Linked DNA regions of Homo sapiens: regions 2, 3 and 4 are each linked to region 1. The links come from fine-mapping of genetic effects on gene expression. A gene starts in region 1. Each other region holds a variant in brackets. All regions are shown on one strand. Distances are between the middles of the regions.

What was found. PIP is the estimated chance that this variant, and not a neighbour inherited with it, causes the effect. A credible set is the group of variants that fine-mapping cannot tell apart.
Region 2: its variant is the best candidate, but not a certain one, in a credible set for the expression of BSPRY in anterior cingulate cortex (GTEx, PIP 0.71).
Region 3: its variant is the best candidate, but not a certain one, in a credible set for the expression of BSPRY in whole blood (INTERVAL, PIP 0.66).
Region 4: its variant is the best candidate, but not a certain one, in a credible set for the expression of BSPRY in lung (TOPMed, PIP 0.74).

What each region holds. Positions count from the first base shown.
Region 1 is chr9:113,346,179-113,354,283 of GRCh38, reverse strand. BSPRY (B-box and SPRY domain containing) reads right to left here and starts at 4,743. Exons shown (of 6, transcript NM_017688.3): 1 at 4,504-4,743; 2 at 1-44. The coding sequence starts at 4,704. RefSeq lists silencers at 1,719-1,768, 4,396-4,675, 4,706-4,775.
Region 2 is chr9:113,319,227-113,327,331 of GRCh38, reverse strand. It overlaps WDR31 (WD repeat domain 31), which reads left to right. Exons shown (of 11, transcript NM_001012361.4): 6 at 4,177-4,321; 7 at 4,421-4,521; 8 at 5,754-5,821; 9 at 6,834-6,975. Among named protein-coding and RNA genes, the nearest start is that of WDR31, 17 kb to the left of the region's middle. The variant T/C (reference allele first, on the strand shown) is at 3,790.
Region 3 is chr9:113,283,003-113,291,107 of GRCh38, reverse strand. It overlaps PRPF4 (pre-mRNA splicing tri-snRNP complex factor PRPF4), which reads right to left. Exons shown (of 14, transcript NM_001244926.2): 5 at 7,897-7,976; 6 at 7,626-7,719; 7 at 6,719-6,813; 8 at 4,818-4,876; 9 at 4,280-4,403; 10 at 2,844-2,933; 11 at 520-642; 12 at 301-408; 13 at 92-210. Among named protein-coding and RNA genes, the nearest start is that of PRPF4, 11 kb to the right of the region's middle. The variant T/C (reference allele first, on the strand shown) is at 3,799.
Region 4 is chr9:113,365,359-113,373,463 of GRCh38, reverse strand. BSPRY (B-box and SPRY domain containing) reads right to left here. Exons shown (of 6, transcript NM_017688.3): 5 at 5,081-5,205; 6 at 2,242-3,848. The coding sequence ends at 3,322. It overlaps HDHD3 (haloacid dehalogenase like hydrolase domain containing 3), which reads left to right. Exons shown (of 3, transcript NM_001304509.2): 3 at 1-42. Among named protein-coding and RNA genes, the nearest start is that of HDHD3, 7.6 kb to the left of the region's middle. RefSeq lists enhancers at 3,045-3,545, 3,546-4,046. The variant C/G (reference allele first, on the strand shown) is at 3,652.

The DNA.
Region 1 (8,105 bases):
GCACTCTGTAACTGCAGCCTCTCACACTGGTCCACAATCTTGTTCTGCAACACAAACAACGCTTGTGGCATCTTGGTCCATGTACCTGAGCCATTCACTCCATCCCAGTGATTTTCTCCTGTTACCACATGTCAGCCACCCACTCCCATGGTCATAGCCCAGATCTCATCATTATCAAAAACTGTACCACCTCCTAAATCTCCATTTCAAGGATCCACACTCTCCCCACCATGCCCTATCCTTCTCACTCCCTAATTCTAGGATACCTATTCCAGCAACAGCTCAGTTGAGGCCACCAACACACTAGTGGGACTACCTTTCACTGTCCATCATCCCCTTCTGTGACCTCACCTCCGTCTTCATCCCAGAACCCCAGCCTATCATTATAATAACTTTAAAACAAATTTTTGCTCTATGAATATTCTCAGGCTATATTATTTAGAAACATTTAAGATTAGAATCATTATATGTTGCTGGTGAACTGCACATTCTCTAAGTGACTTTATCTTTAGTACTATGTTTGCCTTAAAGTCCATTTTGTCTTGTGTTTATTTTTATTTTTTTTTATTTATTTATTTTTTGAGGCAGAGTCTCACTCGGTTGCCCAGGCTGGAGTGCAGTGGTGCGATCTCGGCTCACTGCAACTTCCACCTCCCAGGTTCAAGCGATTCTCCTGCTTCAGCCTCCCAAGTAGCTGGGATTACAGGTGTGTGTCACCACACCCAGCTAATTTTTGTATTTTTAGTAGAGACAGGGTTTCACCATGTTGGCCAGGCTGGTTTCGAACTCCAGACCTCAGGTGATCTGCCCGCCCTGACCTCTCAAAGTGCTGGGATTACAGGTGTGAGCCACCGCACCCAGGCGTTTGTTTCTTTTTAAATTTATTTATGTATTTATTTTGAGATAGAGTCTTGCTTGTCGTCCAGGCTGAGTGCAGTGGCATGATCAAGACTCACTGCAGCCTTGACCTTCCAGGCTCAAGTGATCCTCCCATGTCCTTCCTGAGTAGCTAGAACTACAGGCACGTGCCACCACACCTGGCTACTTTTTGCATTTTTTGTAGAGATGGACTTTTGCCATGTTGCATAGGTTGGTCTCCAACTCCTGGGCTCAAGCAATCCTCCCGCCTCAGCCCCCCAAAGTGCTGGGATGTTACAGGTGTGAGCCACCACGCTCAGCCCGTTATAACCACTTTCTGGCGCACACACTCTTGGTCCTCCGTCATACTCAGCTGCCTGACTGTCCATACCTTCTGTTCTGTCCAGAACTGCTCTCTGCCAAGTTATCCTCATTCATTAAGCAGCACCATCAATCATTCACCTGTTACCCAGACCAAAAACCCAGGAGTTTGTCTCCAACCCCACATCAATTCCATTAGTGAGTCCTATCAACCCCATCTCCAAAGTCTCTCTCTCTCCTCTGGTCACCTCTACTCCAGTTATTCTATCCAGGTTGCCATGATCTCTCACAGGAACCACTGTTAGAACCTCTTAACTGGGTACCCTGCACCCCCAACCCCCCAGCTAGCCAGAGCCACCTTTTGTAAGGAAATCAGACCAGGTCATGCCCCTACTCAAAACCCTCCAATGGCTTTCAGTACACTCACAATGACATCAGGCTTCTTAGCTTAGCCAACCTAGCCCCACCTGATGTGACTCAGCTTATTTCTCCAACATCACTTTCTACCTCTATCCATGCTGGCCTTCTTTCTGTTCCTTAAATGTACCAAACTTGTCCTGACTTCAGTGCCTTTGCACCTGCAGTTCCGTTTCCACCAGTCTGTGTGTGTGTGTGTGTGTGTGTCTCACTCCCCAACTGCATTCAGATGTCATCTCTTCAGAGAGGTCTTCCCTGACCATCTCCCTCCTCACCCAATCTCTTACTTTGCTTTATTTTTCTCCCTTGCACTTATAACTCTCTGACTATATATTATGTGTTTGTTTACCTTTTTGGGTATCTGTCTCCCCCACCACTGGAACAGAAGCACCATAAGTCTGACTTCTCTATGTCCTAGTACCTCAAAGAGAGTTTCTGAACATAGAAGGCCCTGAATAAATATTTGTTGAATGAACGAACACCCACTGCCTTGACCACAAGAGGTTCAGCAGTTCATGGCTCTCAAAGCTATGAGCATCATCCATGAGCTCAGGGGAGTTTTAGAAATGGGAAAGCTGGCCGGGCACGGTGGCTCACACCTGTAATCCCAACACTTTGGGAGGCTGAGGTGGGCGGATCACCTGAGATCAGGAGTTCGAGACCAGCCTGGCCAACGTGGTGAAACCCCATCTCTACCAAAAAATACAAAAATTAGCCAGGCGTAGTGGCATGCGCCTGTAGTCCCAGCTACTCGGGAGGCTGAGGTGGGAGAATCTCTTGAATCTAGGAAGCAGAGGTTGCAGTGAGCTGAAATAGCACCACTGCACTCCACACTCCAGCCTGGGTGACAGAGTGAGACTGTCTCAAAAATAAATAAATATAAGTAAATAAATTTTAAAAAAAAAGGAAAGAGAAAGAAACGGGAAAGCTGAGGCCCAAAGAGAAGTGACTTCCCCAAGAAGGTATGGGCCAGGGCCCTGCTTTTGCTCTCCGTTTCTCCAGGTGATACCTAGAGCCTATCCAAGCAGCAGTCCCTCCACTGTTCCCCCTAAGAGTTCTGCCTCAGTTCCATCTGCCAAAAGGCAACTTAGCTACCTCTTCCAGGAAGCCCTTGTAAATCTTTCCACCCAGAAGTAGAAATTAGTTACATTTCATAGGTCCAAATACAAAGTTACAGAATTGAGTTGACTAGGAGGAAGCTGTGATCACCATGCACCATGGACTAAGAGCACTGAGAAGGCTTCTGAAAAACCACAGGGCAGGAATCCAGAGGTAGGAGAGCAGTAGAACTGGTGCTGGTTTTGGTAATAATCTTGCCCTAGGGTGAGATTTATTTGCTGACTGGATGGATAGAGGAAGGAATGTGCAAAAGACAGAAATCTACTCTAATTTGGTGGAAGAGAGGGTAAGACCCACCTCCCTTCAGGCAAAGGAGATAAATATGCATACGGCCTCAGAGGGGTTCAAAGAAGGTTCCCTAGGGTAGTACCGAAACTAGCACCAGGCCTGCCACCTGCCCGAGGCTTCACTCTTTCCACCACTCAAATCCAGTCCTGATAGCTACTTTTAAGGTTTCCATGACATTCTCACCCCCATTAGCATCACTTCCTCCCTCCAACCGCCGAAGCAAAGCAGCAGTTTCCTCTTGCCTAGTCAATGACTCCCTGGGTCCCACCCCTGAACATTAGGAAGCTTGGAGGAGTTACTGCCTTGTTCCGAGCCTCCAGTGCCTCATCTGTAAAATGTAGGTAGGACCCCTTCAAAGGCGTGGTCAAGACAGAATGAGATGACAGACATTTAAGTACTTTGGAGTTTGCAAATTTTTTTGTCCATTATGCAAGTTGATTACACCGCGTTATCCAGGTTTATTTTTGTCATCATTATTGTTGATAGAGGTAACAGGTAGGACGAACCAGGAGCTTTTGGGTGTTGCTGAAAAACTGAACCCCTCCCGAGCCCAGCACCCTATATAAGATGTGTTTATTACAGGTCACTCTGGGTAGGCGAAGTCCCCAGCCAGAGCCCTCAGGCTTCACAGCAGGGGTGAACTGCAGAGTCGGGTTGGGAGAAACAAGCTGTTTAATCAAATTGCAAGGAAATCCCCAGGGGCCACAGAGAAGCCCAAGGTGACTTCGACTCTCCCAATCTCAGCAGCTCAGGAGAATGGTGATGACAAGGAGGTGGCCACCCTGGAGCCGAGCTGGAAGTGGAGGTGGCGAGAAAGCCTGGGTGAAGGGGAATCCCCTGATATTCTCCCTACCCCCACCGTTTATCCAGCTGAAGCCCTTAAACCAGCCTGAAGTACAGTCAAGGCCAATCCTGAAAGCGAAAAAGAGATCACCGCACCAGAAGCCAGAAGGGGTTAGGAGCAGGGGGAAGAGGCGAAAGGAGGAGGGGGGCTTTGAGTCCAGGGGTTAAGGGATACGGTCGCGCTGGATTTTATCAGTGTCAGTTTCCACAGGGGCGGGAGCTGGGGCACACCCTGCGCTGAGAACTGGAGCAGCTGAGCCTTTCATGCCAGCCCCAGCTTCCTCAACAGAGCAATGGAAGGGGCCTGGGGAGCCTGGATCCCCTTATCGCTAAGCATTTTACCCACTATCTTATTTATTTCTCACAACTCTAATAAATACGCGCTATTATTATTGTTGTTGTCCCCAAACTACAGATGAAGACACTGAGGCTCAGAGTTACGTGACTCACAGGGAGTAGATTCGAACTCAGGCCAGCCTGACTTCAGAGGCCACACCCTTAACCGCCTAGTCCTACAGCCAAAGCCACCGAGGAGCCTAGGCTCCGGGGCCGGGTGTCGAGTCCGCCCAGCCCCAGGCTCCCCAGTCCCTGCCGGGTCCCGCCAGGCGCGCCCGGGGTCTCCGGAGCCCTCGCCTTCCGGCGCCCACACCCGCTCACCCGCAGCTCCTCGGCGCGCTCCTCCGCCCGGCGGATGCGGTGCCCCCGGCAGCGACCGCCCAACCCCGCGCAGGCGGCGCACACGGGCCGTCGCTCGGAGCCGCAGAACCAGCTCAGAGCCTGGCCGTGTTCGGGGCAGAGTGGCCCCGGCCCGGGCCCGGACCCGGACCCCGGCCCCGGCTCCGCGCCCTCGGCGGACATGGCCGTGCGCCCGCCCCGTGCGCTCCACCTGTCGCAGGTGGCGGCGGGCGGGGCCTGGCTGACCCCGCCCCCGGCCCTCCCGGTGCGCCAGCGCGCCCCGCAGCTGCGCCTCCTCCCACCCAACCCGCGCTCCCATCCCGCCCGGGGCAGCAGGTCTCTTTAAATTCCTTGTTGAATGAAATCGCGATTGTATGCGTATTTGTTCTACAACAAACATAAAACTCCAAATATTACTGTGACCGTAGGAAACTTTATTGAGCACTTATTAAGTGCCAGGCTTTCGCTGAGAGCTTTGCAAGCGTTCTGTTATGTAATCCCGACCACTGCCCTTTTTGAGAGGCAGCTTTAGATGCCTAGCTTCAAGCAAGGCTCTGCTGAGAAACTGCCTGGTTCAAATCCCGTTTGGCTGCTCACTGGGTGGGAACTCCAGCTGTAAAATGGGGTGAGAGTACCTGCCTCCCAGACGTCTGAGGAGTAAATACGCTAAATACGTAAAACAATATCTGGAACATAGCAGCTGCAATCGCTAAGTGTCTACTAACAGTGCGAGGAAAGTACTATTAGGATCCCATTTTTATGGAAGTTAAGTGGCTTGCCAAGGGTCACAGTTACTAATTGGTAGCTATGAGATTGGAACCTAGGCAGTGTGACTTAAGGTTACTATAATTAATAATTTTTTAAATTGAACATTGAGGCCCAGTGAGAAATATCTGTATTAGGCTGATTTTCCCAAAGTATTTACATCCAAACTTTTTGAATTTGAATATTTGAGTTTTCTTTTTAAACTAGCATTGAAAAAAAGTAATGCCTTTTTATTTCGAAGAAAACAAAATATGCAAATAAGCATGTGGAAGAAAAATCCACCCACTCCCACCCCAGAAAGAAAAACTGCTAACATGTTCCTGAGCTGTTTAGGGCTTTTCCCACCCTCAGGATCTTATATATTAGTCTGAGCCCAGATTGAGCCCTCTGCTGGGGATCCAGTCTAGTCTGTCTGGGCATACAAGGAGAACGCTGCTCTCCAGCTCTAAATTCTTCTTCTTCTTTTTTTTTTTTATTTTTTTTTATTTTTTTGAGATAGGGTCTCACTGTGTCACCCTGGCTGGAGTGCAGTGGTGTAATCATAGCTCACTGCAGCCTCGACCTCCCCAGCTCAAGTGATCCTCCCACCTCAGCCTCCTGAGTAGCTGGGACTACAGGCACATGCCACCGTGCCCAGCTAAGTTTTGTATTTTTCGTAGAGACAGGGTTTTGCCATGTTGCCCAGGCTGATCTCAAACTCCTGGGCTCAAGCCATCTCCCCCCTTCAGCCTCCCAAAGTGCTGGGATTACAGGTGTGAGCCACCGCGCCCGGCCACCAACCCCAAATTCTTTCTTAGGAGTCTTGGCAGAAAGCTGGGCACTCTCTCAAAAGGGGAAGGGCCCAGGCCTTCAGGTGTCAGAGAGTACTCTGAGTGCATCAGAACTGAACACAGGCGGGAGCTAAACCGAAAGAGAAACATTACATCCCATAGCTCACAGGGGCTCTAGCACCTCTACTCTGAAGCTTCTCTAAGCAATGGCCACACAAAGGAGATAGAACCCTTTCCTTCTCAGCCACTACTGCTTTAGCACCTGAGGGGTAAGGGCAGCTAACAGCCCCAGAGCTACCCAGAGCGGTACACAGTGGTGTCATCATCCAATGGGGACACATTGTCACCCCAGATAGACAATATTACACCATATGATTAGAGAGAACACTGAGTGAAATATAGTCATTGGTTTCATCCCAGCTATGCAGCTTACAGCTATGGGATCTTGGTCAGGTTACTCACAGCTTCTGTGTCTGTTTTCTTATCTCTACAACAGAGGTGATAATAATACTATCATCTACCTTAGAGGGCTACTTCAAGAATGAAATGAGATCTTGTCTACAAAGTATTTACTTTGGGTGTCTGATATACAGTAGGGGATAATAAAAGGTTTTATTATATGTGTGAGGATCTGTAAATACAGTTGTAGCAGGTTTCAGAATGTAAATTGTGTGAGGTTCTTTGGCGACAGGGGTGCTGCTTTCCTGGCATCTAAAGAAGTTTCCAGTGCATCCCAGTGGGAGGGTGATGGCCTCATAACAGCATCTACACTCCTCTGGGGGTGGGGAGGGAAATAGGCCATGGTAATTAGAGATTGTGGTTAGAATTTTTTCCTTCTAAGGACTGGGGATGGGGAATTATTAAACCCTATGGTGAAAACAAAGAAAATAGGAGGTGCTTTTTGTGTGAAGGCTAAAAAGAAAAGAGGTTGTGTGGCCAGGAGCAGTGGCTCATGCCTGTAATCCCAGCACTTTGGAAGGCTGAGGCAGGCGGATCACTTGAGGAGTTCGAGACCAGTCTGGCCATCATGGTGAAACCCCGTCTCTACTAAAAGCACAAAAATTAGCCGGGCATGGTGGTGCACACCTGTAATCCTAGCTGCTGGGGAGGCTGAGGCATGAGAATCGCTTGAACCCAGGAGGTGGAGGTTGCAGTGAGCTGAGATCGCGCCACTGCACTCCAGCCTGGACAACAGAGCAACACTCTGTTTCAAAAAAAAAAAAAAAGAAAGAAAGAAAGAAAAGAAAAGAAAAGAAAGAAAAGAGGTTGTGGAGGGCAGGGGGAGGAACAAGGGTTAAAATCCTTAGGGAAAGGTGGGGGGGGGGGAGGGGGGCCTTCACTGGGTGTGGCCCTAGAGCAGTCATTGGCCCTACCAGGTCCAGGATCTGGAAAACAGCCCCTAAATCACCAGAATTACTTTCAGGTAGTGGCATCAGCAAATGCAAAGGGCTAAGGTAGGAGTAGATTTACTTTTATCAAGTCGGGTTCCTCTGTTTCACCACTTATGAGCCAAGTTGGACTGGAACTGGAGAATCGCCCTTTCCCTATCTGTTCATCAAGCCCTGCAGGACACATCTGGGATACTCATAAACTCCCCGGTTATAGCTCTTAAGCTTTATCAGGCTTCGGAATCGTTGGAGGACAGGGGATGGTCAGGAGGGGAAAGAGGAGGAGTTGTAAAACACGCAGACTTTCCGGTAAGATTTTCATCCATTAAGTCTGGGATGAAGCCAAGAAGCTGCATCTGTGGCAGTCACTCCTTGACTAGGATGCAAAGGAGCCCCTTGACTGTTTCTAGAAACACTGCCCTAAGGCAGTGGCAACCCTTTATTAGGTGGCATATCAAGAAATTCAAGGGGTGGAGATCAGCATCTTTTATAAAAAGAAAGAAAAGGCTGGGCACAATGGCTCACGCCTGTAATCTCAGCATTTTGGGAGGCTGAGGAAGGTGGATCACCTGAGGTCAGGAGTTCGAGACCAGCTTGGCCAACATGGTGAAACTCCGTCTCTACTAAAGATACAAAAACTAACCAGGCGTGATGGCACATG
Region 2 (8,105 bases), 27 kb after region 1:
GCAGAAAGGATCCAAAGTGAGGCCTATATGCCTAGATTTTTTTAAATATACATATAACAAGCTAATGTCAGATGAAAATACACTTTGAAGGAAGAACTACTCAAGAAGCAAAGATAAAATTTGATTAATGCTTTTTACTCTCTATAAATTAAGAGAACATGTACTCTATGAAACAAGAAATTGAAAAAATAAGACAAGCCAGGTGCAGTGGCTCATGCCTGTAATGCTGGCACTTTGGCAAGGCAAGGCAGGAGGATTGCTTGAGCCCAAGAATTTGAGACCAGCCTGGGCAACATAATGAGACCCCATCTCCACAAAAAATTAAAAAATTAGTTGGATGTAGTTGTGCGCACCTATAGTCCCAGCTACTCAGGAAGCTGATGTGGAAGGATCACTTGAGTCCATGAGGTTGAAGCCATAGTGAGCTGTGATGATTTCACTGCATCCAGCCTTGGCGACAGAGCAAGATCTTAGTCTCAAAAAAAAAAGTAAGACAATAGAAGAATTATCTGGGAGAGAAAATATTTGAGGAAAAAATATTATTAAAAAGTAAAAATTGGCCAGGCAGGGTAGCTCATTCCTAAAATCCCAACACTTTGGGAAGCTGAGGTAGGAGGATTGCTTGAGCTCAGGAGTTCAAGACCAGCCTGGGCAACATAGCAAGACCTGTCTCTACTATAAATAAAAATACAAATATATTCGGTGGTCATAGTGGTGCATACCTATAGTCAAAGCTACTTGGGAGGCTAAGGCAAGAGGATCGTTTAAGCCAGGGAGATGGAGGCTGCAGTGAGCTATAGTTGTGCCATTGCACCCCAGCCTGGGTGACATAGCGAGACCCAGTCAGAAAGAAAGAAAGAAGGAGGGAGGAAAGAGAGAGAGAGAGAAAGAAGAGAGAAAAAGAAAAAGAAAGAAAGAAGGACGGAAAGAAGGAAAGAAAGAAAAGAAAGAGAAAGAAAGAAAGGAAAGGAAAGGAAGAAAGAAAAAGAATCTGTATGTGCGGAGAGTGTTGTTCATGTGTAAAGGCAATGGGAAGACATTCTTAAATTTGTAAAATCTTGCCATATGCAAAGCATTCCTCAATAATATAGTTGAAGGTATATTATTAAAGAATGTGAATGGGCCGGGTGCGGTGGCTCACGCCTGTAATCCCAGCATTTTGGGAGGCCAAGGCGGGCAGATCACCTGAGGTCAGGAATTCAAGACCAGCCTGACCAACATGGAGAAACCCCGTCTCTACTAAAAATAAAAAATTAGCCAGGTGTGGTGGCGCATGCCTGTAAACCCAGCTACTCGAGAGGCTGAGGCAGGAGAATCACTTGAACCCAGGAGGCAGAGGTTGTGGTGAGCTGAGATCACACCATTGCACTCCAGCCTGGGCAACAAGAGGGAAACTCCATCTCAAAAAATAAAAAATAAAAAATAAAGAATGTGAATGAATGATGAATAATAAAGCCAATGAATATTAAAGAAGTTCCAAACTGAATTCACTGTATGAGCCTTCAATCCAATTAAACACAGAATTATGTCTAAAGAATTGTCAAAACGAGGGCTATGAGAAGAAATGTAATTGTTTTAATTCTTTTAAAAATTTATATGTATAAAATACAAAATATTAATAATATGATAATAGACTAGATAAAAATCCAAGAGAGTACTTACAAAAGTGGGAACGAGCCAGAAGTAATATAATTGTGCTAATTAAAGAAAAAAAAAATTTTCCTTACAGGAGATTCTGTTTTCTTTCTGAAATTAATACATTGAGAATATGAGTTTAAGGATATTAATACATATACAGAGGTATCATGAGAAGAACTTAAGTTCCATATTATTTAAATTAAAAATATAAAGGGAAAAATAACTCTAAAAACAAATATACAATTTTATAGAAAAAGAAGACAATGAAAATATGACAAAGTGTTTTTCAAAAACCAACAGAAAAGATGGAAGGAACAAGATCAAACATATATATGATAGCAGTAAATGTAATTGGGATAAATTCACTTATTGAAAGGCAGTACTCTTACTGAGTTAAAAACTAAAGCCACCTGTACATTGTTTAAAAGAGACATATCTAGGCTGGGCACGATGGCTCATGCCTGTAATCCCAGCAGTTTAGGAGGCCAAGGCGGGTGGATCACTTGAGGTCAGGAGTTCAAGACCAGCCTGGCCAACATGGCAAAACTCCATGTCTACTAAAAATTAAAAAAAAAAAAGAATTAGCCAGGCATGGTGGCACACACCTGTAATCCCAGCTATGCAGGAGGCTGAGACAGGAGAATCGCTTGAACCTGGGAGGCAGAGGTTGCAGTGAGCAGAGATCACACCATTGCACTCCAGCCTGGGCGACAGAGTGAGACTGTGTCTCAATAAATAAATAAAAAATAAGACATATCTAATGCAAAACAGCTTTAAGATTGAAAGTAAAACAGTTAGTAAATATAGAACAGATATTTGTACACACACACACACACACACACACACACACACACACACACACACATATATATATATAGCAGCATTGTTTATAATAGCCAAAAGCTGGAAACAACCCAAATGTCCTTTGACAGATTCATGGATAAACAAAATGCGGTAATATACATACAGTGGGCTATTTTTCAGCCTTAAAAAGGAATGAAATAGGCCAAGCACAGTGGCTCGTGCTTGTAAACCCAGCATTGTGGGAGGCCCAGGCAGGTAGATCACTTGAGCCCGGGAGTTCGAGGCCAGCCTGAGCAACATGGCAAAACCCTGTCTCTACAGAAAATACAAAAATTAGTCAGGTATGGTGGCGCACACTTATAGTCCCAGCTATTCAGGAGGCTGAGGCAAGTGGATTGCTTGAGCCCGGGAAGGGAAGGTTGCAGTGAACCGAGACCAGGTCCCTGCACTGCAGTCTGGGTGACAGAGCAAGACCCTGTCTCAAAAAAAAAAAAAAAAAAGGAATGAAATTCTGATACATGTTACAACATGGCTGAACCCTGAAAACATTATGCTAAGTAAGAGCCGGACACAAAAGGACAAATATGGTATGATTCTGCTTATTTGAGGTACCTAGAATAGTCAAGTCCATAGAGACAGAAAGTAGAATAATGGTGGGTGCCAGCGGCTGCGGGGAGAGGAAAATGGAGAGTAATTGTTTAAAGGTTGTAGAGTTTCAGTTTGGGATGATGAAAAAGTTCTAGAGATGATAGTGGTGATGGTTACACAACAATGAATGTACTTGTTGCCACTGAGTTGTACACTTAAAAATGGTTAAAATGGTAAGTTTTATGTATATTTACCACAATTCCAAAAAAAAAGAAACACGATGGAAGAGATCAGAACAGGAAGAGTAGGTCAGCAAAGATATATCAGGCAAATGTAAACAAACAGAGCAGGAGTTGGGATGATAATAATATCAAGCAAAGTTGTATTCAAGGTAAAAAGCATAAAATGGAACAGAGATTCACTTCAAATTCTTCGTAAGTATAACAGAATCACCTGTCATAACAGTACAGCATCCATTTTTGGGGTGTGGTGATGATCAAGTGCAAAAGGAATCCCACAGGAGGAAGTTCTATAGGAAGCCCAAGAGGGGATACATCCTCACCAAGGTGACATGATCTGAGGAGGTGAGATTTTTAACCTTACCCTGAAGGACAGGAGGAAATCTGCTACATAAAGGAAAGGTAGCACAACATTGATAAAGGTGGAAATTCAGACTGGCCCATGCTGTGCATTCATAGATTTCAAGCTTAGGTATTACTCTTTTGAGAAGTGTGTGTGGGGGCCGGGCACAGTGGCTCA[T/C]GCCTGTAATCCCAGTACTTTGGGAGGCCGAGGTGGGTGGCTCACCTGAGGTCACGAGTTGGAGACCAGCCTGGCCAACATGGTGAAACCCTGTCTCTACTAAAAATGCAAAAATTAGCTGGGCGTGGTGGCTGGTGCCTGTAATCCCAGCCACCCGGGAGGCTGAGGCAGGAGAATCGCTTGAACCCAGGAGGTGGAGGTTGCAGTGAGCTGAGATCACACCACTGCCCTCCAGCCTGGGTGACAAAGTGAGACTCCGTCTCAAAAAAAAAGAAAAGAAGTGTGTGTGGGGAGGGAGTTATGCAGACTCATCTTTCCCCCAATTTAAAGTCCAGTCCAACTAGCATACCAGAGCTATTTCAGTGTTGTTGTTTTTTCCCTGAGCAGGTAGCCTGTATTCCCAAATCCAGCCAGTTCTTCAGTGCCTCTCGTGACAGGATGGTCATGATGTGGGACTTGCACGGTTCCTCACAACCAAGGCAGCAATTGTGTGGCCATGCCATGGTGGTCACCGGATTGGCTGTGAGTCCAGGTAAAACAAAGCGGACCTCTTCCCAATGCCTTTGTGCTTTCTGAAAAGCCCCGTTCAGGTCCCCACTCACAGGCTGTCTTCTCACCATTGTTTCCAAAGACTCATCACAGCTGTGCACTGGCTCTCGGGACAACACCCTGCTTCTGTGGGATGTGGTGACAGGACAGAGTGTGGAAAGAGCATCTGTCTCCAGGAACGTGGTATGAACTCAAACTTGGTACAGAACAGGGCAGCAGAAAGGAGCATGGGGTGAAGGAAAGGCTCGGGAGATAAATCAGGAGGCCCATGAGCAGAAATTAGAGCCTGGGTCCCAATTGCTGTCCCCTAACCTGCTGTGAGACCCTGGCCTCTCAGGGTTATTAGATTAGATGTTCCCTTGAGTCTTCTGCTCCAGACAATGATTTTACTCACTTATATTGGAATTTAAAATGGTGTCTTCATTATTTCTTTCATTATTCTGTTTCTTCTGTGGGCCAGACACTGTGCTAGGAACAGGGTTAGTGACCAAGAACATAGTTCCTGTCTTCCAGGACCTCACAGCTTATGCTTATTGTATGTTCATATGTGTAACATCATGTGGAGAAATAAGCATTACCTTTTGCTTTATGTAGAATTTGCATTGCTTTTGAAGGACCAGTTGTTTTCTAGTAGCAGACTGGTATAAATTGGAGAGCCTTTGGAGTCAGTTATACTCAGGTTAAAATCATGGATCTATTACTTACCAGTTATGTTATCTCAAGGAAGTTACTTAAGCTCTTAGAGTGTCTGTGTCTTCATTTATAAAATGGGGAGAATTCTATCACCTGCTAAGGTTCTTCAGAGGATGAATTCAGATACTAGATGTGAAATACCTGACATTGTGTCTGACCCATACTAGATGTTCTTTTAGTGGTTGTCAAATTTCAGTCCCAGTCATCTTTTCTAATTTTGAAGATGACTGCCAATGGTCAGATATGCTTGCCCCATGCCCTCTATATTGGTGGAGGTTACTGGAAGAAAAGAAAATCCTGTTATTTCGGGTTATTTTGGAAACTATTTTATGCCTATCCAGCAGGGACCTGCAGGGATAAAGAGAAACATGAATGCTCTTCCTGATCCCCATGAGGTGTTGGGGCTAGAGTTTCAGTGAACCCACCTTACAACAGGAGCTGTTCTATCTGCCACACAGCTGGGGTTTCAGGCACTCTTAGGGTGCCTGCATGTATTTTGGTGCTCACAACTGGCCCAGCTGTTATCTTGCTGCTGATAACCTAGGAGATGCAGGTAGAGCATGACTGATAGGTATCTGCAAAACCTAAGATGCCTGTAAATGAATTTGCTAGTTCAGAATCCTTGAGAAGAGGCACAGTGATGCTAGTTAGCACATTTGACAGGAATTACAGCAGAGGAATGACTTGGTGTGGAGAAGTTCTGAACATTTTGCTTTTTCTAGGTCACTCACCTGTGCTGGGTCCCCAGAGAACCATACATACTACAGACCTCTGAAGATAAAACCCTCAGGTGGGCTTACTGAGCAGCTGTGAAAGTGTTTCTTGTGAGGTTTGTGGCTCCCATGCATACATGGCTCCATTCCCACTCTGATTCTCCACATTGCTCTGCCCTTCCCAGAGCCTTCTGTTCCTCTGCCCTTCACTGGTGCTGGGGCCTCTCTGCTTTGGCCCCATGGATCATTAAGGTAGAGGTTGTGTGTCATGAGATCAGGCCAAGTAAAAGCCCCTGTTTTGGATGGTTCCAAAGCATCTGATTCAGCCAGCTCCTGCTGTGTGAAGGTGTTCAGATTAACCCCAGAATCAGTCACTTGCTTGTCCCACCCTGTTGGGCTGCCTGGCTCTCCTTGCTACCCCTGCATGGCTCCTGGTGTTCTCAGTCACCCAGCCTTCAGCTGAAGCCCTCCCTGGGGAAGCAGGGTTGAAATCAGCATCAGGGGAGTCAGTAAAGCCAATAGTTCTTAGACCGGAGAGGATAACTAGAAACTTTGGATCTCAGAAGAGATTCTCCTTAGAAAATGGTAGGAATGGGGTAAAGAGGTAAAAATGAAATAAGAAGCAAAACAAAACACTCCCCAGTGGACCCCATAGCCAAGGCTGGCCATGACCTGTATGTAAATCTTTTGTAACTAATTCTGAATGATGACTGATTTCCCATATCATAATAAGTATCTTTTTAAAAATTTAAGTCACAGGCACAGAAATATCCTTTTGTCCACGGAAAGCAGTGTCTCAAAGGACCAAATTAACAAATTAACTTGTACAATTAAGATGCTTGGTCTCAATTTCTATTAACTGATCTCAAAATAGAAAGAACTCAGATGTCATTCAATTTGGTTACTTCCTGCCAACTTTAGAGTCTCAGAGATTGATCTGGTTCATGCTGCCGTTTTTAGGTAAATCATGCCATTCCAATCTGACTGGCCTATGCAGCAAAGAGCCAAGACTTTTTTGGTAGTGGGACAATACGGGTGTATTTCAGCCACATTTACTACAAGCTAATTTCCTGCCCTAATCTCTTTCAGATTATGGGACAGTCGGGGGCTGCAGGTAGCTCATATGTTTCCTGCAAAGCAGCACATTCAGACCTACTGTGAAGTCAGTGTGGATGGACACAAGTGTATCTCCTGCAGCAATGGCTTTGGAGGAGAAGGCTGTGAAGCCACGGTAGGAGACTGTGTGAGGTCCAGGTATCTGGTTGCTGATGAACAGATCACTTACTCTGGCCTCATGCCTGTAGCTGTGCTACACAGGCGGGCTTTGCTAATGGCTCAGGCCTCTTTCAAAAGCATACTGTGAGTGATCCTTTGCATTCCAGTTGCTTCATTTAAGAAACATTCATAGGGGAGGCCAAGGCGGGAGGATTAATTGAGCCCAGGAGTTTGAGACTAGCTTGGGCAACAGAGCAAGACCCTGTCTCTATAAAAAAATAAAAAGTTAGCTGGGCATGGTGGCATGTGCCTGTAGTCCAAGCTATTCAGAGGCTGAGGTGGGAGGATCAACTGAGCCTAGGAGTTTGAGGCCAGCCTGGGCAACAAGGGAGACCCCATCTCAAAAAAATAAAGAAAGAAAATAAAAGAAACATTCATCAACTTAGGGCTCTCTGAATTGGTAGTAGGAAAGAGGAATGGGATGAGAGTCAAGATGGGGAGGAGCTAAACACAGAACCAGCCTGCTGATGTCTCTACTCCCAGCAGAGCTTAGAGAGGGGAGGGACTGTTTGAAGAACCAGATTTATTCCCATTATAGGCGTGGCCACAGTAAAAGAAGCTCAAGCTTTTTAGGAAATTTGGAGCTCTAGTGTTGGTCCAGGGCCTACTCCATCCCTTACTCATGTACCTTCCTTACATTTAATTTTGGAATAGATTGCCTAGGCTCCTCCAAAGCACCTTAGATTCATAATTGTAGAATATCCATTAAAAGGGTTATCTAGTATTCAAACAGAACAATTATGCCTCCTATTTTATTGAACATTTCTTGTGTGCTGGGCACTGGGATGAGCACATTACATGTAATATCTCATTTAATCCTTAAAAACAACCCCATGAGTTAGGTACTATTATAATTCCCATTTCACAGACAAGGAAATAGAGGCATGGCAAGTTGACATCTCTTGCACAAGACCACATCCCTAGTAAATGGTAGATTGGGGTGTTGCAGCCTTTGAATGTAGCATCTCTTTTCTAAGTGAAACATTTCCAGCTCCTACAGCTATTCCCTGGATAACATGCTGTCCAATAACTTCATTATCTTTTTGGACATAATTCAATTTGCTCTCCTCCCTGAACATTATTCTC
Region 3 (8,105 bases), 63 kb after region 1:
GCTCAGTTAAGCTAAAGCCTGGCCTGCATTCCACGGGAACACAATACTGTTTGTCTGTGTCATTTAGACGTAAAATAGGAGGAAAGCTTACGCTCAAACTTGACACCAGTCACTAAGTTCTGATGAGCAGGGATGGTGTAGACGCAACGCCGCTGTCGGAGGTCCCACACTTTGCAGGTGTTGTCACCACTGCCGGTTGCAATGTGATAGCTGTGGATTGGATGCAGTATTGAAGTTAGAAATAGAGTACTTACTGACCCAGAACCCTTTTTCGCCCCTCATTCAGTGTGTTTATTTTACCCATTGGGGGAGAAATTTATTCCATAGATTTCTTTCAGGTGGCCTTCTAAGAACATGATACAACGTCCTGTGCGTAGGTCCCAAACTCGACCAAATGCATCCAGTCCCCTGAGAAAATAATTTAGAAATGAACACTTTGAATCCAGTTCTCTGTGGAAGCAGGTATAGGTAAGAGGTGAGAGTACTGAACTGCCCCTGACTACATGGGAGAAGCCTTACCCAGTGCCAGCCAAAGAGCCATCTTGATGGAAGGCAATGTCATACACACCCATGCTATGGCCTTCCTGATGCAGGATCTCCTCTTGAGCCTCCAAATCCCATAAGCGCCATGAACGGTCATAGCTAAAACCAAATCACACTAACAATCAACCAGCTGATATTTATTCAGTTTCTACAACACATAAAGTATTCTAAGCCATTATAGCTTAAGTTATTAATGCTTCTGAAACTATTCATATAACCATATTAACAGGAAGCTCCTTTCTGACATAAACAATGACTCAACAACTAAGCTTATCTGCCTTAGGTGCTAGCTGAAAACCATGGAATCGCTGTAAACCTCTAGGGCTTTTTTTTTTTTCTTCTTTTGAGACAGAGTCTCACTCTGTTGCCCAGCCTGGAGCACAGTGGCGCAATCTTGGCTCACTGCAACCTCCACCTCCCGGGTTCAAGCCATTCTCCTGCCTCAGCCTTCTGAGTAGCTGGGACTACAGGTGTGCGCCACCATGCCCAGCTAATTTTTGTATTTTTCATAGAGATGGGGCTTCACTATGTTGGCCAGGCTGGTCTCGAACTCCTGAGCTCAGGTGATCCACCCACCGTGGTCTTCCAAAGTGCTGGGATTATAGGTGTGAGCCACCATGCCCAACCTAGTGGCTATTGTAATAACAGGATTCCCCAAGAATGGCCCAGCAAAGACTCTGTTACCTTCTTTCTTCCTCCACTGTTATATTCTTTCATTCATCAAGCATTTATACATTTACTAGGCCCTAAATTGGATGTTGGGGATACAAAAATCACTCATACACAAATAGATCAATGGAAGAGAATAGGAAGTACAGAAATAACCACACATATATGGTCAGATGATTTTCAACAAGGGTACTGAAACAATTCCAACAGAGAAAGGAAAGTCTCTTCAATACAAGGTGGTATAACTGACTATGCACATGGAAATAAAGACAAAAGAGACAAACACAATTTAAAAAACCAGGCAAAGCATATGACAGAGCACTCAAGAGCAATAATGATCAGGGTAATAAGAATGAAAATCACGGGAGATCACTACACACCTGCTAGATTGGGCAAAATGGTAAGACTGACAACACCAAATGTTAACAGGGATGTGAAGTAACCAGAACTCCGGGAATGTAAAATGGTGTAACCGCTTTGGAAAACTGGTGGGGAGTTTAGAAAAAGTTAAATATACATCTCATACCTCTACCCTATGACCCAGCAATTGTACTCATGTCCACAAAAAGCCTGGTACAAGAATATTTATAGCAGCTTCATTCTGACTGGCCCAGACCTGGAAACAGCCCAAGTGTCCATCAACAGGAGAATGGATAAACTATGGCACAGTCATAAAAATGAATAACCCCCAGCAATAAAAAGGAATTACTGATACATGCAACAACATGAATGACTCTTAACAATGTTATGCTGAAAGAAGCCTGCCACAAATGAATTCACAGTATGAATAGACATAATTAATTTGTGGTGATAGAAGTCAGATCAGCAGTTGCTTTAGAAGGGGGAGTTGGCTGGAAAAGGGCATGAGGGACCTTTCTGGGGTGATGGACTATTCTCTATATTGACAGAGGTGTCGATCACAGGAATGGTACGCGTTTGTAAAGACTGACAGCATTGTACACTTAAAATAAATCCATTCCATTGTATGTAAATTATAACTTAATGGAAAAGTTCTCTAACAGATTCTAGCCTCCCTGAACTTACAGAACCAGGAAGGGAGACTTATATACCTGTAGCATTGGACAAGAGTGAAAATCCTTGTTTTCTGGTAATTTGTAACTCTGAAATTTCAGATTAATTGTAATTTAAAGGCAAATATGGCTGGGCGCGTTACCTGTTATCTATAATCCCAGCACTTTGGGAGGCTGAGGCGGGAAGATCACCTGAGGTCAGGAGTTTAAGACCAGCCTGGCCAACATGGTGAAACCCTGTCTCTACTAAAAATAAAAAAATTAGCTGGGCATGGTGGCACGCGCCTGTAGTCCCAGCTACTCGGGAGGTCGAGGCAGGAGAATTGCTTGAACCCGGGAGACGGCGGTTGCAGTGAGCCGAGATCGCGCCACTGCACTCCAGCCTGGGTGACAGAGTGAGACTCCACCTCAAAAAAAAAAAAAAGGCAAATATACTTAGCTCTCACTATATTAAACATTCTCCTCTGATTCCAATTCCCTGCAGCCCAAGAAAATCCTACCTGAAGATCTCTGCTCTAAAAATTTACCTGGCAGATAGCCATAAAGGGTTAAGAAGATGCTACAGGCCTATATGGATAAAACAATAACAGGATGGCTCACCAGGTGGTGCCCAGGAAACGTCCTGAAGGATGCCACATTACCCGCGCCACACGCACTGTATGGCCTTCAATATCTGCCACTGGTTCATCACTGGAAAGGAACCAAACATATAAACAATTTTATAGACATATAAATAGTCACAAAACTGCTTACCTTCTGTGCAGACATACCCATTCTGTACAACACGAGAGGCTAAATTGTAACTACACTTGTAAACTACTTTGGCCCAATAAGCAAAATAGTCATTCTGCACCAAAGGAGTACCTGGATTCTAGAAAGAAAACATGCTTTGGAAGAGATATAAGGACACAGAAATCACATAGTTTTGGTACAAGTGGATTACAGATAAACCTTTTTCAAATTTAGGCCTGTTCCAAGATCCAAATGAAAAAGGAACTCCTAAATAGAGATGAGGCTTAGTCTCCTTTTGGTGGCCATTAAATTCTGCTACCCAGCAACCACCAAAAGATCTGAACATCAGCAAAAGGAAATAAACATGAACTCTAAGGAACGCAATTAAAAAGGGAACTTTGTCAATGTGCATACACAGAACAAGCCAAAGCCCAAGGGGAATAAACATTGCTAAGTATTACCAAAGCCAATTAAAACTCACTGCGCTCCTAAGTGAGACCCTGTCTGGTGAGGAGTGAAGACATTAATTAGCTCTCATAAAAATTCTCAAGTAAAAACCTTCATGTGTTTTCCCAAAGAAAGAAAACTAAACAATTAAATTCAGATGCCTTTTGGCCAACAGGGTGCTTCCGAAGTTTTTTTTTTTTTGGAAAACAATCACATAAACACATTTTTAAAAACTGTTGTAGTTGGAAAATACATTCTAGGTAAAGGATGATGCTATTGCGAGGAGACATCTCCGTGGTAATACTGCTAGACAGAACCTCACTTTCCTCTCCCCTGTGGCTGTTTGCTAAGAACCAACGAACTGCCAAGAATATTA[T/C]ATTTAGTTCATTGTTAATTTATCATGTAGGAGGTAGGCTGGATCTTTCTGGAATAAATGGAGCTAGGAAATAGTGGTCACTAGGCTATAGACAAAAATCAAGATCCAAAGTTAACAGGTAAGAAAAAACGGACATAACTCCTTTAGTAAGAAAAGGCCTAAGAATGAAATCTTCCACTTACTTCATTTTCACACTAGGTTACCTTGACTCTTAAACCATCTTGGGGGTTAAATGCCAGATTTTTTTTTTTGTTCTTTCAAGACGGAGTCTTGCTCTGTCACCCAAGCTGGAGTGCAGTGTGCAATCTCGGCTCACCACAACCTCCATTTCCCGGGTTTAAGCAATTCTCCTGCCTCAGCCTTAAGGTGTGAGCCACTGCGCATGGCCTAAATGCCAGATTTTTACTGAGGTCCTGGGGACCAACCAATCAAACATCTACTTTAGTGATGGCAGTATGGGCCACAGAACAGTGATATTCACCTGTCGAGACTCCAAAGCTTCACAGAGCCATCAGCCGCACAAGAGGCCAGGTTGACATCTTTTGGGTCCAAGGAGACAGTGGATTTGGGATGGAATACAATTGCTCCTACATTTGTGTTATGCCCTAAAGGAGTGTAAGAGATGCAAGTTAAAAGGTTCCTGCCTCTTTATAACCCATGTTATATACTAGGGAACATGTGGACATACAGAGTATTCAAGTGACTATTCAACTATTAAAACATGAACTATTTTAATTTAAGCTAATATTTAAATTACATTTTTAAAAAAGCAAAACACAAAAAAACCCATTTTGGTTTTTGGTTTAGAGATTATAAAATGCCAGAGTGTGACTGCACATGAGAGAAAAGTGGATGTGTAGGAAGTTGTGATAGTCCAGTCTTGCAGCCAGAGAAAACCAAGTCAAATCAAATCAAGGATTAATGCTGTGTGTATGGGGTCTGAGTGTCAAGCAGAGTTTAAGGCTTAACTGAGTTCACACTGGGAAAAAGACCGAGATTTGGATAAGACTCTAACTTACCTCGAAGAGTGTGAAGGAGGTTGCAATCAGGAACAGACCAGAGCTTGCAAAGCCCACTCCTATCAAATACAAAGGAAAGCATCTCAGCCAGGGTTGGTCTGGGAAGGAAAAGGTACCTTGGTAATATTACTAAAGGACAATCTCTTCTCACCCCCAATAAACTTTACAATGGCTGACAGAAAAATAAAAGCCTTATAGTTAGAAGGGTTATAGAAGAAAAAGCTACCTCCAGCCCACACGCAACCAGAGGCTTTTACTGGACTATAATTAACACTACACCAGTAGCCATTCTCCTTAACTTTTGGATCCACTTGTGAGGGAAGGTGGGGCAAATTAAACTATCCAATAATACGAATATTAATAGTGATACTGTCCTTAAATATGAATAGTATTTTGCTGATTACAAAGTATTTAAATTTTTTTTTTGAGAAACAGTGTCACTCTGTCACCTAGGCTGGAGTGCAGTAGTGTGATCACAGTTCACTGCAGCCTCAACCTCCCAGGCTCAAGCAATTCTATCACCCAGCCTCCTGAGTAGCTGGGACTAACAGGCGCATGCCACCACACCTGGCTAACGTTTTAAAAAATTAAATAAATTTTTAAAAATTTTTTGGGCCAGGCGCTGTGGCTCACACCTGTAATCCCAGCACTTTGGGAGGCCAAGGCGGGCAGATCACAAGGTCAGGAGATCGAGCCCATCCTGGCTAACACGGTGAAACCCTGTCTCTACTAAAAATACAAAAAATTAGCTGGGTGCGGTGGCGGGTGCCTGTAGTCCCAGCTACTTGGGAGGCTGAGGTAGGAGAATGGCGTGAACCCAGGAGGTGGAGCTTGCAGTGAGCCGAGATCGCGCCACTGCACTCCAGCCTGGCCGAAAGTGTGACACTCCGTCTCAAAAAAAAAAAAAAAAAAAAAAAAAAAAAAAAAAAAAAAAAAAAAAAAAAAAATTTGTAGAGACAGGGTCTCACTATTGTTGCCCAGCCTGGTCTCAAACTCCTGGGCTCAAGTGATCCTCCTGCCGTGGCCTTCCAAAGTGCTGGGATTACAAGTGTGAGCCACCATGGCTGGCTGGCCTTAAACTTTTTAGAGACTTCTTATTTTGGAAATTTTTCAACAAATTACTTTTATATCTATTATCTCGGATGATCTTTCTAACAGACCTGTGAAGCAGGTACGGCAGGAACGATCAAACTTTATAGTGAAGGTAATGAGGCTTGGAGAGGTGGACTCATTTGTGCAGAACCTTGGCTTTCTCCTGAACCCATCTAAAGGTCAGCCTAGTCAAGTAGCTCCTGTGTATTCAATCTAAGTTTCCTTTCTCATTAGATAGCCATGTCCCACAGAAAAACACAACCAAACTCAAACAAAACAACAAAGTTACCACATCCTGAGTTTTCTGCATATGTGGTGATAAGAAAATAAAACAAAGATAAACCAATAATTAACGTTTAACGAGTCCTTACTACATACCAGGCACTGTCAAGGCAAAATGCCTTGCAAACACTACCTCATCCCACTTTACAGGTAAGAACACTGAAGCTTACAGAAATTAAGTATCTTAGCGAGGTCACATAACTGAAAAAGAAAAGCCAGACTGAGTTATGGATACTAGTTGGTCTATAAACTCACTACAGGACCTGTTCCAAAATACTAGTGTCAAGAATGTGACAGAGTGCTTTGTGTAATGGATCTCTGGGGTCACTGGTGAAGAGCGAGAACGGCTAAACCAAGGCTACATTGTATTATACAACAGGTAGAGCACTGACTGACATCTGTAGTTTGGTGTGATCATGAGAAGCAGAGAAAGAGGACGTAGAAATAGACGTCTAACGCAAATGCTAATTTTCTTCCTGAGCCTGTTCCCCATTTAGGAAAAAATGTCATTGTAAAATGGAACTTACCAACAAGCTGTGGCCAGCATCTTGGAATTGGGACTAAAGTGACAGTAGGAGATAGGCCGATCATCCCCAATCTGACTGCAAAAATTATTCAAAGACTTAAAAAGAAAAAAAATACACACACGGTGATCATTAATAGGTTAATCTAAGAGCTCCTTTGCTTTTCCACCATAAAAAGAACAACAAAGCAGCTTTTCAGTTTTAACCCATCCCAAGATTCTTCTATGGTTTTGTTGCTGCTGTTAGAAGACACATACATTGATAAATGAAGTTATATGAAACTCCAGCATGCTGTTTTCTATAGTCTTTTTTTTTTTTTTTTTTTGAGACAGAGTCTTGCTGTGTTGCCCAGGGTGGAGTGTAGTGGCGTGATCTTGGCTCACTGCAACCTCCGCCTCCCGGGTTCAAGCAATCCTCCCGTCTCAGCCTCCCAAGTACCTGGGATTATAGGCACATGCTATCACACCTGGCAAATTTTTGTATTTTTAGTAGAGACAGGGTTTCACCATGTTGACCAGGCTGGTCTCAAACTCCTGAGGCTCAAGTCATCCGCCTGCCTCTGCCTCCCAAAATGCTGGGATTACAGGACTGAGCCACTGTGCCCAGATGTTTTCTACAGTCTTAGGATCACAACTTCTGAGTCAGCTAAATATAAACAGAAAACCCCAGAGAAACTCTGACATATTAACGGGGAGAAATAAAGAATAGAACCATAGGCCTCTGCTGAATACAAAGCACAGTAAGCTCCTGCCACATTAACTGATGGCTCCTTCCATGTCACAGCAGCTCAACTTAAGCAGGGAGGAATCACTCTAGTTGCCTCTACCTTCCCAGAGGTGAGCCAAAGTAGAAAAATCAAATAAACATGAAGAACCTTTAAGATGTGGGACAATTGCTGGGAGCATCTTACCCGGAGAGACTTGTGCAGCTCTTGCATCTGGGAGGTCCTTGTTGTCTCAGGAATCTCCTTATGGAGTCGGGCCTCTTCCAAGCGTTTCATTGCCCTGCGACACAGAAACACCATCACCAGGAGCAACAGGGTTGTAAACAAGGACCCACATGTATCCCTACTCTACCCCTCAATTTCATTTAACAACCATAGTCATTATCCAGCACTCAGTTCCTGAGAGGAAACACACACAAAAAATATGCTTCTTTCTTCTACTGGAGGCTCTCTTTACCTGGGCAACGAATAATTAGCAATCCATAGTCTTGCCACCTTCAAGCTATTTGGTCCTTCATGATACCAGGTTTGCTGATACTGAAAGGCAAATTAAGAGCAGAAAGGTCAAATCTGAAGCATTCTACTCCTCTTATAACTGTCATTTCTCCATTTTAACTGCCCAGAAGGAAGGTGAATTCATTCGGTAATAGGATGAAATCAGGCAGA
Region 4 (8,105 bases), 19 kb before region 1:
AATAAAGCAGTGAGTGCTGAGCTCTCACCCTTCCCCCACTAACCAGCTCCTAGCCTCTGCCCTCCCTCATTCTCATTCACACCTGTGTCCCTTTTCCACTAGGAGTCGACTTCACATCCAAAGGATTCACAGAGGGCCCCACTAGCTTCAAAACCAGGCACTTTCAAACTTGGTTTTAGCAGCAGAGTCCTTTAGTTATGGGCGATCTGAAACCCCATTATGCAAAACTAAAAACAGACCCTGAAAAACTGCTGGAGTTGAAGCAGAGGTGCTAAGGTCTCTCTTTCAGCTTCTGAAAATACCCTCTGGAAGCCTGGGGTCAGTGCTTAGTTTGAAAAGCAGGATGCTAAGCCATTCTGTAGGGACACTGTCCATTAGCACCACATAGTATGAAGGGGAGAATTTAAACAAGGAACCCCATGACAGTCATGAGAAGAAATCCTGTTGACATATGCCTGCCCCGTGTTAGGTAAGGTGCTGAGTTACCTCCATGCACATATAACCCTCAAAGCTACCTCGTTGGGCCTAGGTGGTTTGACCCCCTCCACAACTTTACAAATGAGGAAACTGAAATTCAGAGGTTAAGCAGCCTGCCCGAGGTCACAGCTAGCATGCAAAGACACCAGGATTCCATTTAGGCACATCTGAATCCAAAGCCCATTGGCTTGACCACTAGGTTGTAAGTAGATGAGGATGCTTGTCATGTGAAACGTGGTACAGTGGAGATTCTGGGAGAATAGGGGAGGTGTCCTAAAGAATATCAATCTCAAAGGGCACCCCAGTCGCAGAGACCAGTGTGGAGGTAGGAAAGTATGGGGAACAAGGACTGCAGTGTAGGGAATAGGTTTGGAGGGAGGGGGGAAGAACTGGAGGTTGAAGTAGGTTGGGTTTTTCAATTCCTTTTTTCACTTTAGGAGGCTGAGGCAGGAGGATCACTTGAGCCCAGAGTTCGAGACTAGCCTGGGCAACATGGTGAAACCCCATCTCTTCAAAAAATGTAAAAACTAGCCTGGTGTGCTGGCACACACATTTAATCCCAGCCACTCGGAAGACTGAGGCAGGAGGATCGCTTGAGCCCACAAGTTCTGTTACAGTAAGCTACGTGCCACTGCACTTCAGCCTGGGCAACAGAGTGAAACCCTGTCTCTAAAAACAAAACAACAAAAAGTTCTCCTGCCTCCCCACCTTCCCACACCGTTCTACTTGGTATTTGCTGGACATCTGTGTTCCTTGCCCAGTGCCAGAGGATACCACACATTAAAAACACAGGCTGGCAGTGTGTTCTGGTGCCAGCAGCTAGGGAGGGCTCTAGAATGGATGCTGAATTCAGTAGTGGCATTGGGGGTGGCTTTAGATGAGCAGGGGGATGAGGAGGACATTGCTGCAGCAGGCCGATGAACTGTGGAATGAAGGCTGCTGTGAGGAGCTGGGTTGGTGGATTGGGAGAAAATGGCATGGGGGCCTTCAGGTGCCAAGAAAAGCCTTGGCTTTGACCCAGATTTTTGAGCAGGGGCTGTGCCCAGGCAAAGGCAGGGAAGATCTCTTTGGGACTTGACCAAACCCCTTTTGGTCTGTTTTCCTTGGGACTGGCACCAAGGCCAGGCAACAGTAATTTCGTTGTTTTTTTTTTTTTTGAGATGGAGTCTCGCTCTGTTGCCCAGGCTAGAGTGCAGTGTTGCGATCTCGGCTCACTGCAACCTCCGCCTCCCAGGTTCAAGCAATTCTCCTGCCTCAGTATCCCGAGTGGCTGAGATCACAGGTGTGCACCATTATGCCCAGCTAATTTTTTGTATTTTTAGTAGAGATGGGGTTTCACCACATTGGCCAGGCTGGTCTCAAACTCCTGACCTCAGGTGATCCACCTGCCTCAGCATCCCTTTGAGACTCTGTCTCAAAAAAAAAATTAATAAACAGTGGTTTTCAAACTGCTCTGCAGCTCCCAAAGAAAGTGGGGAGGGCTCTGCCTTTCATCTTCTTTGGACGCAGGAGCCTAAAGTTGTAGGTAAGATTACTTTTGAAGAGAGTTCCTGGACAAAAGTTTGAAGACCACTGTTCTAGGGTGAACTCCTCATGGAGACAAACATAAAGGGACTTGCCTTGGGTCTTGGTAATGTCTCCAGGCTCTTTCCGCTACACTGAGCTGCGACCCACTTATTTCCGAGAATGCAATAAGGGTATGAAGACAGGCCAGCGTACAGTATACACCCAATTATCAACAAAGAACATGGAATAAATCTTCAATGCTTTTAAGACCTTTAATAATGCCCACGTGCCCTAAGGTTGGCCCTCTTAACTCCCTCAGCTCTTTCTGGCTTTAAGCCATCACCCCAGGTGTGCAGTTTATGTCAGAGGGGGCCATCAGGTAGGGAAACTTATCAGCTGCTCTAAGAGAAAAGGCCGTCCCTGCTATTATCAGTGGGCACAGGCTGGAGCTCAGCCAGCAGGGGCTACAGTCGGGTTACCTGGAGACATGATCCCCTGGTCCTCTGAGGGCCTAGGCAGGACATGGGGGAGGACACGGTCCCCCGGGACAGAGTCCTCTGGCCAGGAGCAGCCTTTCAGGTTGCTCTTGTGTGCTAGAAAAAAATATTTTCTCTATGTGCCATGTCATGAAAAAGACAAAAGCACTGAGTTAATGGGATGTGGAAACTTTAGCCACAGGCTTCTCTGCCTGTGAAGAGAGCATTTCTGCATGTGAACAGCTGGAGCAGGAGGCTGAATGGCAGTGCTTCTCCAGAGACCACAACATCCACCCAGTCACCTGTCCACCTACATTCACCTATCCATCTATCCATCCACTCACCTGCCAAATATTTATTGCATGCTCACTATGCACCAGGCACCATGCTAGATGCCAGAGACAAAGTGAAGACACCCTCAGAGGGGCAGATGCATGGTGGATTTGGGAGACTAAGGCCCAGGGAGTAGTAGGTTCCCCACAGGTACCCAGCACTCAAAGCAGCAATCTCCAACCCTTTGAATGCAAGGACTTTTTTGCTTATCTGTGGTGGCAGATATCACAAAAATTATACACAGACTTTTTTTTTTTTTTTAGCTCATCAGCTATCGTTAGTGTATTTTATGTGGCCCAAGAAAATTCTTCTTCAAATGTGGCCCAGGGAAGCCAAAAGTTTGGACACCTGTGATTTACAGGTTATGCCTAGATCTGAAACAGATCCCCATCCCTCCTAAAGCTGCCCACTGGTTATGGGCCCTGTTTCTCTTAGAAACACCACACACATCATTTGGGAAAAGCACACTGAGTAGAAACATGGCCTGAAAGGGTGGTGGGCGGTGGACCTGGCTTCCTGTGGCCAGAGGTCAGCGGACGATAGAAATGGTCTGATCGGCCACAGCAAAGACTGGGAAGAGGGGCCCCGGGAAGGACACATGATGGGCACAGAGCACTGTGCCGGAGGCTGGCTCATAGAAGAGCAGCTCCTGAACCTGCAAGTCCAGCACTACACCCAGCTGGGCTGGGCCCCGCAGCAGCCCCAGGGGCTCGTGCTGCCCATTGTGTGAGAAACGAAACTCCTGATCATAGCGAGAGAAGACCCAGGAGAAGGCATTGTGGCCCAGACGGCAGTCACTGCCAGAACCCTTGCGGGGCAGGTGGCCTGAAGCCACGCCCACCTTATAGGCACAACTGTT[C/G]TGGACATTCACCATCCAGGCATGGAGCCCATTCTGGAAGGAGGTGGCAGCCAGGGCATTGGGCCAGTGGTCGAAGCGCTCCGGGCCATCTGCACAGGCCTTTGACTTCTTGGTGCTGAAGGTCAGGGTCTTTCGATCATCTGACAATTGCAGGAAGGGGCTGACTGTCCTCTCATCGATCCGTATGTCCTCTGTGCCTGCCAGAAAGAATTCTCAGAGTTGCCGAGGGCCCACCCCTGCCCTAACCTGGTCCTGCCAGGTAGCAAAAGGTTCCTCACCACTCACTAGCATGGTGACCTCATATAAGCCATTTACTCTCTCTGAGCCTTGTCTGCAAAACGGGGGTCAAAATAGGACTTCTCACTGGGTGATCACGAGAATTAAACAGAATCATACATGTAAAGTGCCCAGCATGTAAGTGCTCTATAAACTGTAGCCTTCATAACAATAGTTACTATCAGTCAAGACCCTCAACTGTAAACTCTGATAGAAATAAGGCCCAGAGAGAAAAAGGGAGTTGCCCAAGTTTACACACTGACTTGGTGGGAGGGGCAAAATGAAGACAAAACATTTTGTTCCTATACGTAGCACTGATTATACTCTTTCTACTTGGTCATATCTGTGGCCTCCAGATTGGACGTGTCCTAGAAACACAGCCTCTGGGAGCTAGGAAGCATGAGATAAGCAATTTCTAGCAAATATCTAAACTGCTGGTAAATCAGGCATCATTTGATACCAGAATCTAGAGTAGAGAAGCTACAGCTTCTACCAAAATTGTAAGGATAATACGAGGAGGGAGGATTAAAACTGAAAAAAAAAAAAAATCAGTCTATTAACCTAACTGTTCCACGAATTGTGAAAGACTACCATTGGGAGAATGGAAGCTTCCATCTAACTTGGAGGAGGCCTGCTCTGGAGAACCTCTGTGCTAAATGGGAATTCCTGGAGGCAGAAGACCATGTCAGTTTACCTCTGTGGCCCCAGCATGTGGCACAGGGTGGGGCCCACAGTTGGCCTGAGTCAGTGTGTGTAAAGTGAATAAGTGAGGCAAATCAGGCAGTTTGATTCTTGGTCCAGATGTTCTTCAGTTGGCCATCAATTTTATCTTCTTAAAGAGAAACCCCAGGTTTCCAATAAATAATACTGGGCTGCCCTAGTAGGTCAGGATATAAGGAAGACATGACTTATAGGAATGAGATTTATCTTTGACCCAACCACAGAACATGTTAGTCCGGAAATGGGAAGGACTTGGCCCAGCTGCCCCAGGCCTGTCTGGAACCTTGACCCTACTGACCAGCCTGCATCCAGCATGACTTGTTTAAGCTATCATCTCAGAAGCACGGGTCCCCATTGTGAACCAGGAGTGAACCCCAGACAGACAGACAGAAGCCCAGTTGTCCTAATGGTCCTGGGCTCTACTGCTCCTAACCTGAGAGAGACCCAAGAACCGCCGTTGCCCAGAGTTGGGTCAGTAGTGGGCTCCGAGTGCACTTCTCATTAAAGTTTAACATTTCCGACTCCTGGGGATCCAAAATGCCCTCTGCTTCTTCGGTCCTTATATGGGGAAAAACAGAGACAGAGATTCAGGATGGTTCTGGAAATATATCTGGATCAATATGGGGTGAAGAGAAGAACAGAAGTAAAATCTCCTATCAGGCGATACCAAGATTGGCAGCTAGGGCCAGGTGCAGTGGCTCACCCCTGTGACCCTAGCACTTTGGAAGGCCTGATGTGGGAGAGGATCACTTGAGCCCAGGAGTTTGAGACCAGCATGGGCAACATAATAAGACTCCATCTCTACAAAAAATTTAAAAATTAGCTGGGTGTGGTGGCATGCACCTGTAGTCCCAGCTACCTGGGAGGCTGAGGTGGGAAGATTGCTTAAGCCCAGGAGTTCGAGGCTGCAGTGAGCCAAGATCATGCCACTGCACTCCAGCCTGGGTGACAGAGTGAGACCCTGTCTCAAAAAAAAAAAAAAGAGTGGCATCCAGGCCCCACACAGGTGCTTGGGCCAAAAGGGAAGGTGGCCATTTCCCCTGTGCCCCCCAGAAGCCTTAATTTTAGCAAAGCTGGTGGACAGTTTATAGGAAGATGTGTTCTTGGTGCCAGTATTAGAAATTGAAGGTGGTGTGCTCTGCAGAGGAAGCAACTTGCCAGAGTCCCTCAGTAAGTTAATGGCAGAGCTGGGGCTAAGACCTCCTGGGCCTCTGGAACCCCTGCACGATAGTCTTTCTACTCCAACATCTTGCCCTTGCCTGGAAAATATCTCACCTCCCTCTCAGACCTGTTGGGGCAGTCATGTTTCCCTGGGTTTTGTCAGAAGGTACAGCCACTCCTCTACTTTAAAAATGCAAACACCTGAGGGGTCCACAGAGGAAAGGGCCATCAGTTATCACCCCAGCCACAAATGAATCATGGCACTGTGTGCTCTCAATAACTCTCCCCTCAGCTCACAATGGGGGCTGGGTTTTGCTGGAGAGGTATTTTGGGACAATATGATGCCTAGGAGTTGAAAACTGCCATGTATCAGCAGTGAGGGCCTGGGTTTGCTGTTTTCTCTACAGAATCATACCTCAACTTTGCTATAACCTGGGAGGTAGTGGTTATCTGATTTAACAGGACAGAACAGATTCAGAGCTAAAAAGGGGAGCTAGATTCAAGTCATGCCTCCATGCAAAAATAGAACAAAACTGGGATGAAGCCCAGGCAGCATTCAACATAATTTTTTCCTTGACCTGAAGTGAAATCTCAAAGGAATATAGGGCAAAGTAGGGGTTTACCATGGAGCTTTGCAGCCTTTTGACCTAGGTGCTGAGAAAGACCTTTCCTACTGCCTCCAATCCTGAAGATGGCGTTGAGATCAGGCAGTGGTTCCGAGTACACACACTCTCTCCCCATATCTCATGGCTCTGTGCATAAATGGAGTGGGCACAGGGGTGGGGCATGTGCCCTGATGGCTCTTTGCAAGACTGTCACTGTTCTGTCTTGGGAGGTATAAGGTGAACAGAACCTTAGAAATGCTGGGAGCAAGCTCTAGTAACAAAGGCTCTTTGTGGTCAGGACAACAGAGGGTCTATTGCCATCTTCTCAGAACGCAGGAGCTCCCGCCAACAGGTGGGGAAGAAAGAGGAGCTGATGTCAGCGGTGCTAAGCTGTCATCCCAGGGCAAATGTGAGGCTGAACATAGTGAAGTCTACAGCGAACCACCCGGGCTAGCTGCCCTATGGTACCGAAGACAAAACTCATGGCCCCAAAGGGGTGGAAATGAAAAAGGGCCTGAACACAGCAGGCCCTGGCCAGGATCAGAATGCCCAGATGGTGCGGCAGGATCTGCTGCAGTGTCCAGTCAGAGTTGAGCCCAGCTACAAGCGTGGAAACACCAGAGCCAACAAGGCACTTCTCAGATAAGTGAGTTTCCGGCTAGATGGGGCTTCACAACTTTTGAACACTACTTTGAGAGTATATTCGCTCAGCCTGGGGGCATAAAGAACTACAGACAAATCTGGAACTCTATGGATAGGCCTTTCAATAGTAGTATGGGCTTAGCAATGCTCGGACAACTTTGTATGTATTGTAGGACTGAGCAAATACTGATGTTGTTGGGGGCTGGAGTCCTCACTGTAAAATAACAAAAGGTACAAATGTAGAAAGGGAGAGGGCAAAGGAAAAACCTTGAGGTGTTACATTGGAATTAGAATCTGTGATACAGGCTGGGCATGGTGGCTTATGCCTGTAATCCCAGCACTTTGGGAGACTGAGGTGGAAGGATCACTTGAGGTCAAGAGTTCGAGACCAGCCTGGCTAATATGGTGAAACCTTGTCTCCACTAAAATTACAAAAATTAGCTGGGTGTGGTGACACATGCCTGTAATCCCAGCTACTTGGCAGGCTGAGGCAGGAGAATCGCTTGGACCCAGGAGGTGGAAGTTGCAGTGAGGCAAGATTGCGCCACTGCACTCCAGCCTAAGTGACAGAGTAAGACTCCATCTCAAAAAAAAAAAAAAAAAAAAGAAGCTGTGACACAAACTCATGCATCAAACAGCTACACACACACACACACACTCTCTCTCTCTCTCTCTTTCTCTTTCTCCCTTCCTAGTTCCATCTGCTATATGCTGAGTGAGCTGAGTGAGGCCTAGAAGCAAGGTCACTGAGTACCCTTAATGCTCAGATCTTGGTTTCTAAATATCATTCTCCACTAAAAACAACCAGGTGCCCTGGAGAAGCAGCTGATTCAGGGGCAGGAAAAGCACAAGTTGAGCTGGGGTTTTCTTCTTGTGCTTCTTGTGAAAGAGAGCAAGAAAGTGCTCAAAGAATGATGGGAACTTTTCAAAAGGACACAGGGTCCAGCTTGAAAGGGCTTCTACAGGCCAAATCTGGGACAGTCTGAATGTCAAAATTAGTAATAACAGTGACAGATTATAATGCACTGAATAAAATAAGAATCCATCAGT